Regions from separate parts of the Homo sapiens genome. Here region 2 is reported to be linked to region 1. The links are microRNA targets in miRTarBase. Many come from high-throughput screens and were not tested one by one. Region 1 holds a microRNA gene; the other region holds the end of a gene's coding sequence.
The links. The annotated mature microRNA hsa-miR-513c-3p reads UAAAUUUCACCUUUCUGAGAAGA and lies in region 1 at 1,802-1,824, shown strand. An mRNA with a match to its seed (bases 2 to 7 or 8) in the 3' UTR can be bound and repressed. Matches are read on the target gene's strand: a 7mer-m8 pairs with bases 2 to 8, a 7mer-A1 pairs with bases 2 to 7 and ends in A, and an 8mer does both.

Region 1 (5,204 bases):
TGGAGTTTTAGGACAACAGAAAGCTTTAGTGAGTGGTTGGTCCTTTGTACTTAACTGTAATTTTAAGGGTTTTTTGTTTTTGTTTTTTTGAGACAGGGTCTCGCTCTGTAACCCAGGCTAGAGTACATTGGCACCATCTCTGCTCACTGCAACCTCTGCCTTCCTGGTTCAAGTGATTCTCCTGCCTCAGCTTAGAGTAGCTGTGATTACAGGTGCAAGCCACTACACCTGGCTACTTTTGTATTTCTAGTAGAGATGGTGTTTTACCATGTTTGTTTGACCATGTTGGTCAGGATTGTCTCAAACTTCTGGCTTCAAGTGATCTCCCCACCTGGGCCACCCTAAGAGCTGGGAATTCAGGCATGAGCCACCATGCCCGGCTGAGTCTGAAGATTTTTTTGAGACAGATTTTCACTCTTGTTGCCCAGGCTGGAGTGCAAAGGTGCAACCTTGGCTCACTACAACCTTTGCCTCTTGGGTTCAAGTGATTCTTCTGCCTCAGCCTCCAGAGTAGCTGGGATTACCGGCGCCCACCACTACGCCGGGCTAATCTTTTGTATTTGTAGTAGAGATGGGAGTTTTCCCACGTTGTCCAGGATGGTCTCGAACTCCTAACCTCAGATGATCTGCCCACCTTGGCCTCCCAAATTGCTGGGATTACAGGAGTGAGCCACCGAGCCTAGCCTGACTTTGAGGATTTTTTTTTTTTTATTACACTTTAAGTTTTAGGGTACATGTGCACATTGTGCAGGTTAGTTACATATGTATACATGTGCCATGCTGGTGCGCTGCACCCACTAACTCGTCATCTAGCATTAGGTATATCTCCCAATGCTATCCCTCCCCCCTCCCCCCACCCCACCACGGTCCCCAGAGTGTGATATTCCCCTTCCTGTGTCCATGTGATCTCATTGTTCAATTCCCACCTATGAGTGAGAATATGCAGTGTTTGGTTTTTTGTTCTTGCGATAGTTTACTGAGAATGATTTCCAATTTCATCCATGTCCCTACAAAGGACATGAACTCATCATTTTTTATGGCTGCATAGTATTCCATGGTGTATATGTGCCACATTTTCTTAATCCAGTCTATCATTGTTGGACATTTGGGTTGGTTTCAACCATTGTGGAAGTCAGTGTGGCGATTCCTCAGGGATCTAGAACTAGAAATACCATTTGACCCAGCCATCCCATTACTGGGTATATAACCCAAATGACTATAAATCATGCTGCTATAAAGACACATGCACACGTATGTTTATTGCGGCATTATTCACAATAGCAAAGACTTTGAGGATTTTTAATGAGACAAGCAAAATTACAGGAAAACCAATGGGATAATTCAGACAAGGATAACTCACCTCTGAAAAAGAGGAGAAGTGAAAAGCTCTATCATTGCTCAGCCTAAAAATCGGCGTGTTAATTAGCTGTTCATGGTGGTGCACAGCTTTAATCCCAGCTACTCAGGAGGCTGAGGCAGAATCACCTGAACCCGGGAGGCGGAGGTTGCAGTGAGCCAAGATCACGCCAATGCATGCCAGTCTGGGCCAGATTCCGTCTCAAAACAAAACAAAAATCTGCATGTTAATATCTCACTCAGGGCAGGGTGAAAAGGGGAGTGCTAGGGGCTAGAAGTTGCATTGTTACTTGGCATAAATCTTGGTGGCCATGCGAAGGCATACACCTATAGGGACTTGAATAAAAACGGCATGAATAGGGAACATTTGGTCTGGGATGCCACATTCAGCCATTCAGCGTACAGTGCCTTTCTCAAGGAGGTGTCGTTTATGTGAACTAAAATATAAATTTCACCTTTCTGAGAAGAGTAATGTACAGCATGCACTGCATATGTGGTGTCCCTAGGGATGGGGCTGTAGCTGCGAGCATGGTGATGCCTGTTTTGCATCCTGTGCACCCACTCCTCAGTGCTGGGCTACTTCAAGGAACTTTTTGTGCCTTCTAGACGACTACACATAAGAACTGTGGACTCCTGAGAAAACGCATGCACTTTGGTTCCTTAAGAATTTATCTACTTTTGCCAAATGAGGCTTGGCTCAAATAAGAAATACGTTGTATAGAGGCCACAGCCATTCTTCGTCAGCTGAGACATTTTACTCCAGATTCCTCAATTCTCTAAACTCTTTTCACTGATCAACTAGTCATCATTTGCAAGGATTGTCCTTTAGTGCTCCCAAAAGGCTCTCCTGCCTCTCAGGTCCCTTCATTGCTGATCCACAGTGTCCATTTTCTGTCAAAGACTAAAACATTTTCTCATTGACTGTTAAAATACCTTTCAAAGCCTTCAGTCACCAATTTATGAAGGGTTAAGCATAGTCCACCCAAGAATATTTCACCCTTTTTAATTATCTTTTTTCCCCATTTTTTAAGAGTATATTTGAAGAATGGAAGGGTATGACAGAATTGATACTCAAGAGATATCTCCTAGGCTTCTCTCCCCATTTTCTTTTGGTGACGCTTAACTCTTAACCTAATGGAGAGAAATAGAGGGAAATAAACACACACACACACACACACACACACACACACACACACACACAGAGAGAGAGAGAGAGAGAGAGAGAGGAGAGAGAGAGAGAGAGAACATGCAAGAGAAAGACAAGCACCAGACTATGTAAGGCCATCTGCAGCATTAATCTAGTATACATGTTTGGGAAGTAGGTTATAAATAAGCTATTTATATTGTGGAAATGTGTAAAAAATGTTATAAATAGTAAGTGATTAATACAATTTTGATTCCAACTGAAACAGAGGCTACAGCATAAACACCGAAAGGGAAAAACTATAAAAAACAATTACTATATGGTTACAGGCAGGATTTTGGTTTATGTTTTTTTAGATTCAGAATGTATGAATATGTATAAGACCATTAATGTCTGAAAGTAAAAAAAACAGTTGAAGTATCTTTTCCATAATGAAAAACATTGTAATAATAGAATACATACAATCTTTTTGGGGTGGGGGCAACATTCTGAACAGTAAAAAAATTTTGTCACTTTGCAATACTGTATGTACATAGAATTTTCCAAAGTGATAACTGTTTTTAGTATATAATTTCTAAAACTGTATTATAGTGATGCATGTTTACTTATATAACTTTAAGTGATATCTTAAAATGAAATAAAAGAGAATTTAGTTGTTATCATACCTCTGTTATGATTTCTCAAAAGAATAGTATATTTACTGGTATTTGTGTTTTTTTTCAGTGAAATACTGTTTTGTATTACTCAGCCTTTTTTCTTCCAATTTATTAAGGTTTAACTGACATAAAAATCATATTTAAGGTGTACAACATGACGTTTTGATATATGTGTACATTATGCAATGATTAAATCAAGCTAATTGAAAAATAAAATATGAACATAAAATATTTATTTGAAACTCTAAGAAAAAATTACAAGATCTCTGTGGTAGGCAGAGTAACAGCCCCCGCCCAAACAATGTTCACAATGTAACCCCTGAACTCGTAAGCATCATATTTTATTGTAGAAGAAAATTTGTAGATGTTATTAAATATTTTGAGATTGGGATTATCCTAGATTATCTAGGTGAGCCCAACATTATCACAAGGGCCCTTATACGTTGGAGAAAGGTGGTTAGAATGAGAAACATTGCAAAATACTATAGTATTGACTAGAGGTAGAGGTAAAGGCCATGAGCCAAAGAATGGAGAAAGTAACTAGAATCTTCTAAAGACAATCAAGTAGATTCTCCTCTAGAGCCAACAGAAGGAACAAAGCCCTGCCAATGCCTTCATTTTAGCCAAGAGAAACCTAATTTAGATTTTTGACCTTTAGACTCTAATATAATAAATTTGTGTTGTTGTAAACAACTAAATCTGTGGCAATTTATTACAGTATCAATAGAAACCCCAAAACATCTGTATGCTAAAACTGTAAATATACTAAAAAAAAATACTAATTAAGTGGCGAGGACTATCATATTTATGGATTGAAGGATTCAAATCTATAGACTTTTAGACTTCCATTAATCTCTAGAAGTAATACAATTCCAACCAATGTCCCAGAAAAATATTTGTAGACATTAGCAAGATGATTCTAAAACTGATATAAAAGGCGAATAAACTAGAATATCCAAAACAATCTGAAAGAGAATCACAAAGCTGGAAAATTTACACTTGTAATTTCCAGATTTACTGTCTAATTAGATTACCCAATGTACTGTGGTACTGAAGAAAGGATGGACAAATAGAAGGACCAGAAATATCCATATATGTCACCAATTCATTTTGACTAAGCTGTAAAGTCAATCTAATGAAGAAATGATAGTATTTAAACAGTAAGATGCTGGGAAATGTGAGATATATAAAAAATATGAACCTTGATCGTATTTCAAACCACATACAGAAATTAACACAATCTTAAGCCAAAACGTCAAACTATCAAATTGCATGAAAAAAATGAGAGAAAATATTTTTGACCATTAAATTATTACATATGATATCAAAATATAAAAATAAAATTTATTAAAAATAAATTGATAAAATAGACTTTGAAAAAATTAAGACGTCTTCAAATAAGACCACTGAGATAATAAAAAGGCAAATTACAGAATAAAAATATTTATCACATTATTGAATTACATATAACATATATCCAGCATAAATAACTACATATAATTTAGCACTCCTGTGTATACTAAGTATTTTACTAGTTACTTTGTAAAAATTATCTGTGTTTTAAAATGTCAGTTCTGTTAGCATGTGTTGAAGCTGTTTTGATCTGTGTTGTAGTCCTAGCACATGAAAAACCCTGGTTTAATGTTTACGTATTCATTCTGGACCTTCCTTGCTATACTATAATTTCGTCACCTCGTTAATGTGAATATATTAGTTTATCCTCATAATATATAATAAATTAAAATGTGTTCAGCTTAGGAGTCAGGAACATGGAAAGGCAAGAACTCTAACTGAACAGGCTGAGTATGTATAGATTCAGGAAGCTCAAAAGAGGAAAAATAACTGCCAAAAACAACTTTTACACCTGTCCGAGTTATTCTTATATCAGAATTCTGCCAAAGAAAACTACATTTTTATTGATGTATTTCTTTTTCAGACCATGAGGATAATTCCTATTTATTACAGAACAATGTGGAAAGCACATACAAGGTGTGAAAAACATGAATAGCAGTAATGAAATAATTCCAGTAACATCATAATGTGGATAC
Region 2 (5,204 bases), not on the chromosome of region 1:
AGAGAAAGTTCCAAAAATAAAAAAGCCCCAATTATTATAGTAGCTTCTTAACACCTCAGCTGTGAGTCCCTTTTCCTCTCCAGTCCATGGTATGCAATGTTGGGGTGTTAGTCTCAGGGAGCTGTGTCATTACGACACTGAGGTGCACAGCCTCACAGCAGCATCTCCCTTCAGCTCCTCCCATATTCATTGTGCCTCTTGCCCTCGGGCCTGGCTTCAGCTACAGCATCTCCCAAGGATGTGCCTGCCTCCTCCTGCTTATGGCCTTTGTCCTGGCTGCTTCCTCTCCCTGCAATGTTCTTCTTTGCCTGCATTGTCAGATGCTGCCCGGCTTTCAGGATTCAGCTCATGCGCTTTGACGTGCACAGCCCCTCTTAATCCTCCCCAGCACCCTTTGATGTAAACACTGTTATACCCATTTACAGATTACACAAATGTGTGTGTGTAATGTGTTTATGTGTGTGTAAACATACCCATTTTACAGATACAGTGATAGAGCAAACAGAGGCACAGAGATTTTAAGAATTTGTCTAATATCACGCAAGATGTAAATCAAGGAGCTTATTCCAAAGCCCATGCTCTCAACCACCATCCAGTATCAGCAGAGTTGAAAGCAGCGTCTGATTGAGACATACGTTGAAGCTATAGTGTAAACTCTCAAAAGCAAGACATGTAAGGAAGCTTTGCTAAATCATTTTTCTCTGTCTTTCCTCTTTGGGTCCAGGTTGAAGTAAAGCCATATGTGCTGGATGATCAGATGTGTGATGAGTGCCAGGGCACACGCTGTGGTGGGAAGTTTGCCCCGTTCTTCTGTGCCAACGTCACCTGTCTGCAGTATTACTGTGAATACTGCTGGGCGAGCATACATTCCCGAGCCGGGCGGGAGTTCCACAAACCGCTGGTGAAGGAGGGAGGCGACCGCCCTCGTCACGTCCCGTTCCGCTGGAGCTGAGCCACGGGCCGACCCAGCCACAAGTACTGGAGTAGATAACAAGGAGGGAAAAGAGAGGGCACTGCCTCAGGGCTTACAGTGTTCTGGAAATCTGTGCATTCGTTCTCGATTTTTAAAGAAGAATTGGGTCTTTTTATTATTATTATTATTATTTACAGTCATATTACTGAACTCAGTGTCCAGTATAATGCAGAATTGCAGAGTGTAGAATGGTACTGATTTGCACTTTGATTCACACCTTTGTCTGCTTGGTACCTTAATTTTTTATACCTGATTTGTCACTCGTGACAGTATGTAGACTGCCATTCTCATCAGCGGCCGTCAGGCTACTGTCTGTGATTCTTTTGTTTGTTGTTGTGGTGTTGTTCTGATTGTTTTGAACTGGAGCATGCACTTATTTTCAGAAACTTAGAGAGTTGCCCCTAGGACAAGACTTACCAAAGGTAATACTCGTGAGTAGGTGGCAGATGTAGCAAAAACTTCACAACAATTCAGCAATCATTAGCTCGGGTCACTTAGAGTAAGGATAACCCTTCATGAAAATAAGCCTTTAGTTGCTCTCTATTTTGACTTGTAAGGATACCTCATAAGCTGGATCTTTTATTTTTCCTTCATGTTTGATTTTTGTTTTGCCGAGGATTTTGGTTAGATCTTTTAGTATTATGTAAATTTATGCTGCAATAGCTTTTGCTGCTATTAAAATGGTATTATTAATACCATAATACTCTATTCAGGCTAGGATATCAATTAAACACAAAAACCCAACAACACACTTTTGTGATTTTAGGGATAGAGTCAGCTGCCGAACGGAGATCAGAATAGACTTCAGAAAGCTTCGGTGGAAGGTCACTATTTCTGACTGCATGTTTACTTAATCAGGTTGCTGCATGCAATAAATTTTATATCCAATGTCTAGTATAAAACGTTCCCACAATGCACAAATTAAGAATCTATATAAGCTATAAAAATACTCATTTTTTAAAAAAAGTTTTTTTCATTCAAAGAATTGGTAATTGACCGGAGGAAGGCATGCCTCAATAAATGGAATGCTCTGAATGGGAAGAGCCCATAACAGAATGACCTATATTACAACCGATATAAAACCTAGGTGTAGGATATTCTTCAAGCAAATTTGTGGATGGTAGATGAAGTACTTTGCGGTGCTCTGTTATATATTGTGAAATTTATTTTATATAGTAAAGTGATTATGTCTAACTGTGATCAAACTTAACTGTTTAAAGCCTCTGTCAGACATTAATGAACTTGACAGTTCATAACTGATATATTATAAACTAACACATGAGCTCTTAGTTACAATCTCTTAGTGCTTGCACCATTTTACATAGCTTCAGACCTTGTCCAGAAAACCAAAGAGCTCATCTTAGCTTACAAACACTAAGAATATATACAGGATATAGAGATAAGTTGTCAGATTGACAAACTAGGCACATTTTTAAGAAAGTTGTGTAATGGTGATGCTAAAGAAATGTCTGTACAAAATAAGATGGCCTGGGCAGAGTTGGTTGTCTGAGTGAGAAACTAACTACTTAATTCCCTGGATTTATCCTGTTAAGCTTGAGTAGAATGAAGGCCTGCTAGCACTAGCGTGGTCTAGAATGAAGGCCTGCTAGCACTAGCGTGGACATTTTTCTAGCATTCACCCTTGGGCTGCAGATAGTAATATATAAACACACACAATGATTGCAAGACTATGTAAATCTTTTTTTAATCTTCTTCCTATGTTTTGGAATTCTGGGGACAATCTGACTGGATATGACACTGCAGAATAGATTTAAGTCGCTGTGTTTTCTGTGCTGTGATGTCCTTGTACTGTCTTAAGTTAGTGTTGCTTGTTTTTGTTTTGTTCTCCCATGTTTAGTTGCAATTACTGGCTCTCAAGCTATAGTTTGTTTTCAAAAAGGAAAAACAAAATAGTTTTTTACTGGATTAAAAATGCTTATTTTAGAATCCTCCCCTTTTTGAGGCTTTTTGGTAATAATTGCTTTTTTCCAGCCCAGGTGTGGTTTTGTTTGTTTTTTTCTATGTTTGTGGGTTTTTTTTCATCTGTACAAGAAATTTTGTTATGCACTACTACTTTTTGTATTCTAGACAGTTTTCAAAAGTTGGCAGATTTTTTTTTTTGTTTTTAAGGAAAAAGGCATGCTTTCTGACTGACATGATCTTTTGCAATACCTCAATTTTGAAATATAGGAAAGAAAATGATATTTTCTAAGTAAGTTTATTCAGAAAAATATATATTAATTTAATTCTGCAAGAAAATGATTTAACAGATGGGTAACTTTATTTTTTTCATGCTTATTTGTGTTTTTTGAAAATGAAGAAGTTAGAGCTTTATAACTATAATATTAAAGATCATATCTAACCTACAGAAATCTACCTAATTATGTGAAAGAAGCAAAACTTTTTGAAGAAGCACCCCTCTTTCATGTATTAAAATAACACTGAGATTTTTTTAAAAGCTGGAAGATTGTACAGCATAAAGCTAAAGTGAAGGCAAAAAACATTGTCCTGAAGAATAGGTTACAAAAAATAAACTCCATTTGGTGCTGAAAGTTGTGAATAGATGGTGGAAACTACTTTCCCTTAATTTGTATATTTCTAATCAAGTGTTGATTGTGCGCGACTGACCAGGATTGTGAAAGAGTTCTTCTGTTTGTATTTTTTTAAAGAGAACTTTTTTAGTTTATTAAATTATAACATGTTCCCTTTTGTTTTGTAAATAAATGTGCCCCCAAGTTGTTAATGTTATATTAAAAGAGAGGGTCCTTCAAAAAAATTATTTTTTAAAACACAGAGGTGTTCTGACCTGCAACTTGACTGGGAAGCCCCTGGGTAACACAGGTCCTGCTGTGGCCTTTCCTTGGTGTGACACTTGAACTAGTCGATTTTTTGAAGGCTATAACCTAACCTCGACTATTTGTTGTTATGTGCAATACTGTTTGTACTGTTTGTATAAAAAATAGAAAAAAAAAAGAAAAGAAAAAAGGCATAAATCTTTATTGCAGATTTATTTTCATTGCAAACTTTAGACATTGTGATTCACTGAAATCATTTTTCTACTGTCAAATATGTACCTTTTCTTCATGCTGGTATTTTTTCAATAGTAATGTAGCCTTTGTACTGAGACAAATTTTCATTGTTATTTTTAGAAAGATTTTTTGCTAAGAAAAAAATTAAACATATTTACATATTTTTCATTTTATTTCGTATTTTCTTTAAGGAGTGCTTTCTCAATCATTAATAGAGTTGTTTCTGGGAGGGACTTTCATATCTGGTCAATGTCATAATATTATTTTGTATTTTTATTGGAATAAATTAATTTTATGATGCTAATTCTTTAAAAGTTTATTTTTTTCATTTTCAGTTATTTTTGAAGCTAAAACCTTTGTAATATTGTTACTAAAGTGTCTAGTTTTTTGAAATGCAAAGCTTTATGTATTAACTTGCTGATGTGGTTTACAATAGTGTGACAACGATGAAAATGCTTGGTTATGTAAAGTGATTGGAAATGTAATGGATAATTGGGTAATAAAATGACAGAATGAGCAGAACATGTGAGATTTTGAGAAGCCTTTTCCTTTATCACAGTGGTTTAGTGTAAGACTAGGGATGTCACAGTGCAGTTCTCTAGGGATGTCACGGTGGATTTATACAACACCAGGTGCAGCCAAACCTGTGGCCCTGAGAATGAAGTCACCCAACCGAAGTACCACTGGGTTTAAAATCTGGCTAAGTCAACAGAATGTTTCATTGCTTTTTCCCCTCTAACTCGTCATTATGTCGTGTGTGTGTGTGTGTGTGTGAGAGAGAGAGAGAGAGAGAGAGAGAAAAACTGCCACCAACTGCTGTCCTTGTGTGAGACAGTGCCTTTCTCCCAGGCCGAATCTTTTATGTGCACTGACAGTGGTGATATCGGAGTCATACAGGAAGTTGCTAAGAGGACACGGCTTTCGTGGTGTACTGCAGACCTCACCTGCAGGGTCTCACTCATGCTGCCTCCCTGTAAGGCTCAGTTGGTGGCACTGAGGAAGCACACTCGGATGTCACCACTGTCTGTGGACCCTGACTATGTGTCGGGTTGCATCTTCCTCCACACCCATGCCTGCTTCCTGTTCTGGTGCCCCTTGCCTTTCATTGTGGCAACTGCGTGCATGATCTGTCTGCCTTTCTGCTGCTGCTTTTCCAACACCCTCCTCACCTGGAAGCTGGGCAGTTAAGGCACAGTCATTAA

Region 2: miRTarBase lists CPEB3 as a target of hsa-miR-513c-3p. Seed matches in the 3' UTR shown: 7mer-A1 at 1,619-1,625, 8mer at 2,132-2,139 and 7mer-m8 at 3,025-3,031.

Annotation. Positions count from the first base shown.
Region 1 is chrX:147,186,337-147,191,540 of GRCh38, reverse strand. MIR513C (microRNA 513c) reads left to right here and starts at 1,754; the gene lies at 1,754-1,837. The region is part of intron 1 of LOC105373347 (periphilin-1); the gene reads right to left.
Region 2 is chr10:92,047,960-92,053,163 of GRCh38, reverse strand. CPEB3 (cytoplasmic polyadenylation element binding protein 3) reads left to right here. Exons shown (of 10, transcript NM_014912.5): 10 at 725-5,204. The coding sequence ends at 952. Among named protein-coding and RNA genes, the nearest start is that of BTAF1, 130 kb to the right of the region's middle.